2 linked regions of the Homo sapiens genome follow. The protein of the gene in region 1 purifies or fractionates together with the protein of each later gene. This does not show direct contact. Each region holds a gene or a part of one and is shown in the gene's direction. Other genes may lie near its edges.

Region 1 (3,817 bases):
TTATCACATTGTACAGTTTTCGTATACAAAATACATACAATTTTTGTCAATTATAGCTTAATAAAACTGGGAGGTAAAAGTAAGTTAAATAAAGATGAAGATAGAAACTTAAAATGGAACATACACACAGAAAAATACCACCTCCTCAAATCTACGCCCATCCAGCCTGAGCTTCCCCTTCAGACACAGTGAAGAGGCTGCCTTCCACTGAGACCCCTAGAATGGCACTGCCATCTGTGTGGGCTCCTGGCCCCGTCCTTTGTTCCACATAGCCACTCCTGCAGCTGCTGTTTCCTGCAGGCTTTGTATTCCAGGTCTGAAAGGCCAGGGACACTGGCCTCTGGGGTTTGCTTTGATAATGACTTAACATGTGACCTGGGGTTAACCAGTAGACTATAGCACAGCTCTCCAAGTCTTAATCTGAGAAAGGAGTACCTTTTGAAACAGAGCTCATTTTTACATGGCTGCACTGTTGGCAGGGGATGTGGCTCATGGCAGAAGCCTGAACAAAGGGTAGTTTCCAATTCCAGGAGAGAAGAGTGGCAGAGTCCCTGGTAGCCCAAAATAAGGCTGGTGAGATGGTCCCAAAGCCACACTTTACATTTTGTATGAGGGTCTTTAGGACACTGTGTCAAATGCTCTTTCAGGAGTACCTACAGTGGTAACAGTTTTTCTTTTTTGTTTAATTTCTGTCTTCAAATTGACAAAAAAAAATTGTATGTATTTACAGTGTACAGTGTAATGTTTTGATATCTATACACATTGTGAAATGATTAAACCAAGCTACTTAGCTGGGCATGGTGGCACACCTGTAGTCCCAGCTACTCAGGAGGCTGAGGTGGGAGGATCCCTTGAGCTCAGGAGTTCTGTTCCAGCCTAGGCAACCTAGTGAGACCAGTCTCTTAAAAAAAAAAAAAGTCAAGCTAATTAATATAATGCATTACCTCATATACCTATCCTTTTTCTGTGTGTGGTGAAAATACTTCAGATCTACCCTCTTAGCAATTTTCAAGTACACAGTACGTTGTTACTGCCTATAGTCACCATGTTGTGCAATAGGACTCCTGAGTTTACTCCTCTCATGTCACTGAAATTTTGTACACTTTGACCAATGTCTCCCCAGTCCCCTCATTCCCTAGCCTCTGGTAACCAGCATTCTGATCTCTGCTTCTATGAGTTCAACTTTTTTAGAGTCCACATTTAAGTGAGAACATGCAGTATTTCTTTTTGTGTCTGGCTTATTGCTCGTAGCATGTCTTTCAGGTTCATTCATGTCGTCAAAAATGACAGGATTTTCCTTCTTTTTTTATGGAGTTCCACAGTAATTCTGATTGCCAACAGCCCTTACTTTTTTTTTTTTTTTTTTTCATTTGAGACAGAGCCATGTTCTGTCACCCAGGCTGGAGTGCAGTGGTGCAGCTGTGGCTCACTGCAGCCTCCATCTCTCAGGCTCAAGCAATCCTTCTGTTTCAGCTTCCCAGTTTTTTTATTTTTAATAGAGATGCGGTCTCCCTATGTTGCCCAGACTGGTCTTGAACTCCTGAGCTTAAGCAATCCTCCCACTTTGGCTTCCCAAAGAGCTAGGATTACAGGCATGAGCCACCACATCCAGACCCTAAGAGTCCTTATAGATTCCTCAACTCTACGGCTTTTTCTTTTTCTTCTTCTTTTTTTTTTTCTTTTTCTTTTTAAGAAACAAATACTCTGTGTTGTCCCTGCTGGTCTGGAACTCCTGGGCTCAAGTGATTCTCCCACCTCAGTCCCCAAAATAAGAATAGCTGAGATTACAGGCATGTACCACCACACACGGCTGAACTCCATAGAGTTTTAACCTTTATTTTCCCATAGTTTGGATAACAATGCTGAGGTCCGGGGACCTACCCGAGGTGAAAGAGTTCATTTAATTGACCGTGCTATCATGAACCCAGGCACACTCTGTTACAGCCCCCCTTGTTATATCTGGAAACAAAGTCGCAGCAATCTTTGTGGTTTACAGAGTACTTTTCATGTGCGTCATTTTGTAATCCTCATTTTACAGTTAAGAACAGAGACTGGGGTTTTATGAAAAGCACCATGAAACAGTTCCCTGTTGGTGCCTCTCTTGTGATTTTCTTTGCTACCAAAATGGAAATGAAGAGCCGCAGGAAGCTCAGAAGGTATCAGCACCAGGCCTGGCCCTGGCCCACTTTAGGACACCATTTTCTGATCTCTTTCAGTTCTGCAAGATGCTTTCCTTCTTCAGGAAGAGAATGTGCGGGACACACAGCAGGTGACCACCCTCCAGCTACCCCCGGTGAGTGGTTTCTACAGGAGTCCTTGAAAATCCCCTGTTTGCCTCTGTAGGCTACAGGGCAGCTTTCTTAGGACCCCAGCCAGCTTTCTGACTGCCACACAGGATGTTCAGTCCCAGCCCAGAAAAGCTAAAATAGGCAGAGCGTGAGCTTAAGAGACGCCCCATTTCTCCTCCTTCCCTGTGGTCCCAGCCGCCCACTGGGTCTACTGTCATCAGGCCACCTTCAGGAAGCTTTGTGCAGACGATAGCAGGAAACAAAGGCCCATGAGTCCCCATTGATGGGCCTCTCAGCATGTCTAAGTTCCCCTCTTGTGAAAAAGGAGATCTCTCTGCTCTTTTATTTTACAGAGAATTTTTCAATTTAATAATCATCGCAGCAATGGTTATATTTTAGAAATGTTAGGAAGTGGAGGGAAGAAAGCACAGATAATTTCAGTCCTGTCACAGATCTACGTGGTGAGTCATTCCAGAATTTCCTCGAATGTTCTCGTTCGTGTTTTTGTGTAAGACTTGCTTACTCGGGTGCTCTGAGGAGTCAGAGTCAGGGCTGGGGGCTGGTCCAGCAGGTGATCTTACTCGCCTCTCTCTAGCCCAGTTGCTGTCTTTGGCCATGTTTTCTGGCCATATCTCCTTCACTTTCCCTCCTAACACTTTCCACTGGCTGGCACAAGATTTAGTTATGACAGCATCATCCCCTCCCATGGGAACAGGATGTGTGGCTCCTGCTTTTGTTTAGTTGCTCCTTACCCAACAGAAAACTGTGAAAAACAGTAGACACTCTTATTACCATGTCTCAGCAGAATGTCGGAAGCTGAGCAGTTTGCTTTCTGCACAGTTCATTTGACATGACTTTATTTTATTTTTATTTTTAGAGACAGGGTCTTGCCTTGTCACCCAGGCTTCAATGCAGTGGCACAGTCGTAGTTCACTGCAGCCTCAAACTCCTGAGCTCAAGCCATCCTCCCACCTCGGTCTCCTGAGCAGCTGGGACTACAGGTGCATGCCACTACACCCAGCTAAGTTTTGTATTTCCTTGTAGAGACAGGGTCTCGCCATGTTGCCCAGGCTGGTCTCAAACTCCTGACCTCAAGTGATCCTCCTGTCTCAGCCTCCCAAAGTGCTGGGATTACAGGCATGAGCCACTGTGCCCAGCCAACATGACTTTAAACTTGGAGAAGGGAGGGCTAGGGATGGGAAGGAGTTAGCCAGGTTACCCAGTTAGGGGGCATCTCCATAACTTGCTTTTGCCCCACCAGAAATGTGGCACACGCCTGTTTACCCTGATGCTCAACACATACATGTCAGCATCTGCTGTGTACTGTGACCATTTCCAAACACAAAGGAGGTAAAACCAGTATTTCTTATTAAAATTTGGACATTTAACCAGTATAACACATAAGGGGATGCTGTTAATCCAGTACCTAATGAGGTTTGGTCTTCATCTTTCAATTCCTGCAGTCCCTAGTAAATGCCATAGCGAGCACAGTACAGAGATTTTGATAAGTCAGTACTGTTGTATTACTC
Region 2 (3,817 bases), on another chromosome or scaffold:
TTCTCCATGTTGGTCAGGCTGGTCTTGAACTCCTGACCTTAGGTGATCCACCCACCTCGGCCTCCCAAAGTGCTGGGATTACAGGCGTGAGCCACTGCACCCAGCCTGCCTTGTGTATTTTAAAGCACAGCCAAGATCTCATATAATTTTACCTGCAGATACTGGACCACGAAAACCTGTGAAACATAATCCAAATATCCTATCACTGCCAGCAATAATTTATTAACATCATCTAATACTCAGGCAATATCCAGTTTTCCCTGATTGTCTTGAAAATTATTCGTTGCTTGCTGTTCTTTTTCATAACCTGTTCTTTTCCTTGATAGAACTTACCACAATTTGCTGTTTTGTTCTTTCATGTGTATGTGTTTTATGTCTGACTCAACCACTAGACTGGGAGCTCCCTGGCAGGGGAACCATGTCTGACTTGAGCCTAGCACAGTGCCTGACACATAGTAAGTCCTTCATGAATACTTATTGCGGGGAACTCAGAGAGGCTGAGTGACTCACCCAAGATCACCCAGTTTAAAAGTGGAGATGTCACAGCGACATCCTGGTTTGAACCCAGGACTCCGACTCCTAAATCATGACCTGAACCACTACCCATTAATGAATTAGAACATTCATTGGTTCATCCCACAAACATAGATGGAGTGCTCCAGCCCCATGGAAATAGGAATCTGCCGTGGCCCTTCAAAGACAGTGTCATCTAATGGGAGAAATGACTATGTGTCAAGGTAGAAAGCCACAGTTGGGAGAGACCCCCTTCAGCTAAAGGGCTGGGGAGCAGGGAGGTGTCCCTAGAGGAAGCACCATCAGAGGCAGATTGTTAAGAGGTCACAGAATGCGGAAATCAGATGGGCACCTGGAAGAAAGGGCACTATGAGCAGAGGCTCAGAGGAGGGAAACACAGTGGGGAGGACTGAGTCCCAGGCGGGGGAGGGGAGGGGTGTGAGGTCAGGCAGGGAGGGGTGTGAGGTCAGGCAGGGAGGGTCAGTGGGCTGGGGCACTCAGGCACCACCTGCAACAGCACCACCTGCAACAGGGGAGGAGGTCACAGAAAGCCCCAAGGACACCAATGCTGGGCTAACCCTGTGTGATGCAGAGTGGAGGTGTCAGTTTCTGTGCGGTTCAGGGGCGCCCTGGGGATAGGGCAGGGCCAGAGCAGGGGAGGTCACTGGCCCTATGTGGGCCATCTGAGTTTTCCCTAAGGTCCCAATTCCGTGATCTTTTAGTTCCTTCCTTTACTCTGTCAAAGACACAAGAACGGATCTGTTTGCTTTGTGAAGAGGCTCAAATGAATATTCTACTTAAGCTTTCCATTACGTGAGCATTTAGTATGTGCCAGGCACTGTGCTGGGCCCTACAACTCTGCCAACAACCCTACGAAGAAGTCAGTACTGTTATTTTCCCTATGTTGGAAATGAGGAAACTGAGGCACGGAGAGGCTAAGACCACACTGCCTGCAAGTGGTACAGCCAGGGATGGCCCCAACTGAAATTTGGTTCTGAAATTTGGGTTCTTATCCACTATCCTGCACTGTCTCCAAAATGTGTCCTTAAAATATATGTGTGAGCCACATATATTTTATTTATACATATTTATTTATTTATTTATTCATATTTACGAAGTCAGGACATCTCAAAAGCCATACCTTACTCTAAATACAAAGGAAACTTGCCTTTTTCACGTAAAAACTTCCATGTAGAAATATTCGGAGGCTAGACCAGATGCGGTGGTTCATGCCACCTGTAATCCCAGCACTTTGGGAGGCCGAGGCAGGCAGATCACCTGAGGTCAGGAGTTCACGACCAGCCTGGCCAACACGGCGAAAGTCCATCTCTACTAAAAATACAAAAATTAGCCGGGTGTTGTGGTGGTCGCCTGTAATCCCAGCTACTCGGGAGGCTGAGGCAGGAGAATTGCTTGAACCTGGGAGGCAGAGGTTGCAGTGAGCCGAGATCGTGCCATTGCACTCCAGCCTGGGTGACAGGAGCGAAACTCCTTCTCAAAAAAAAAAAAAAAATTAGAAATATTCTGAGACTTTAGATAAGATAATTGATTGTTCCAAATAGGTTTCTTTATGCATTCAAAGTTGGGTCCACTGTGCTCTCTTAAGGCAAGTGTGATTTGGCTTTAGTTTCCTTGGCTTCTGTGCCTTGGCACTGATACTTGTGTAAGCTGCTGTAATTCTCATCTAGTATTAAGACAGAAGAAACACTATTCATGTGAACTTTTCCACCTTCCTTCCAGCCCCCTCCCCCAGCTTGTCAAAGAGGATTCTGGCTTTTCCCCTTCTTTCCTTATGCTGATTTGAAATATATTTCTCCTTGATGAGGCTTGAAAAATGCAAGTAAAAGTCTTATGTAACAATGTAATCCAGATCTAAATTTTAAATGATAACTGAAAATCTTCATACGTTTGGAAACTAAGAAATGCACTTGTAAATAACCCATAGGTCAAAGAAAAGATAATAATGAAAAATAAGTGCATTTTGATCTAGGTAGAGGAAAAATACTACACATCAAAATGCAATGCAGCTAAAATAGTACTTAGAGGACAATGCATAGTCTTCAATGTGTATATTGTAAAAGTACTTGGCTTACTCTGGAATTGCCTTCTGGAATTTTACTGTATTTTTTTTTTTAACTTTGATGTCCTTTGTGGTCAAACCCAGAGTTCCTGCTAGTCTGTGTCACCCAGCAGTATCATGAATTTCTCTCTCCCAGGGTCACTCAGCTGCCGCAAGGAGCAAGGCAAGTTCTATGACCATCTCCTGAGGGACTGCATCAGCTGTGCCTCCATCTGTGGACAGCACCCTAAGCAATGTGCATACTTCTGTGAGAACAAGCTCAGGAGCCCAGTGAACCTTCCACCAGAGCTCAGGAGACAGCGGAGTGGAGAAGTTGAAAACAATTCAGACAACTCGGGAAGGTACCAAGGATTGGAGCACAGAGGCTCAGAAGCAAGTCCAGGTAAGCCACCCAAGGCAAACCTGCATGGTGTCACGCAGGGTGAGAAAGCGTGGGAGGCCTGATGCCAGGCCTAGAACAGGAGAGTCCACAATGCATGAAGCCCAGAGTCCAAGCAAATGGCCAGAAGCCAGGGAGATCATCCCAGGATAAAAAAAACAATGTAGGCAACATTTCCAGAAGTCTGTGGACAAGAAGAAAGCAGGAGAAAGGACCTGCCGTGTGAGGAAGAGCCTTGCACTAGAGGCTGCCGAGGCTGTGCCAGTCATTGAAGCACAGGCACAAGTAAGCAGCAGACCCACCTGTGTGAGCACCTGAGCAGCAGCCACCACCTGCCCTCCACCAGTGCTGCAGACTCCATTTATTTCTATTATTATTTTATTTATAATTTCAACTTTTTTTTTTAGATCCGGGGGTACATGTGTAGGGTTTGTTACATGGGTATGTTGCTTGATGCTAAGGTTTGAGGTACAAATGGTCTTGTCACCCAGGTGGTGAGCATAGCACCCAATAGGTAGTTTTTCAGCCCTTGCCCTCTCTCTCTGCCTCCCCCTTCTAGTAGGCCCCAGTGTCTGTTGTTCCTGTCTTTATGTCCATCTGTATTCGACACTTAGCATTTCACTTATAAGTGAGAACATGTGGTATTTTCTGTTTCTGCATTAATTCACTTAGGATAATGGCCTCCAGTTGCATCCATGTTGCTGCAAAAAACGTATTTTTCTTTTTATGGCTGTGTAGTATTTCATTGTGTATATTTACCACATTTTCTTTATCCAACCATCGATGGGCACCCAGATTGATTCCATGTCTTTGCTATTGTGAATTGTGCTGTGATGAACATACGT

What was found.
Region 2: the proteins of ZNF496 (region 1) and TNFRSF13B purify together in Homo sapiens (co-immunoprecipitation; one large-scale study listed by IntAct). This does not show direct contact.

Annotation. Positions count from the first base shown.
Region 1 is NC_000001.11:247,321,630-247,325,446, reverse strand, and holds part of ZNF496 (zinc finger protein 496), read left to right. Parts: intron 1-2,216; coding exon 2,217-2,293; intron 2,294-3,817. UniProt on the Homo sapiens protein: DNA-binding transcription factor that can both act as an activator and a repressor.
Region 2 is NC_000017.11:16,947,896-16,951,712, reverse strand, and holds part of TNFRSF13B (tumor necrosis factor receptor superfamily member 13B), read left to right. Parts: intron 1-2,729; coding exon 2,730-2,975; intron 2,976-3,817. UniProt on the Homo sapiens protein: Receptor for TNFSF13/APRIL and TNFSF13B/TALL1/BAFF/BLYS that binds both ligands with similar high affinity. Mediates calcineurin-dependent activation of NF-AT, as well as activation of NF-kappa-B and AP-1.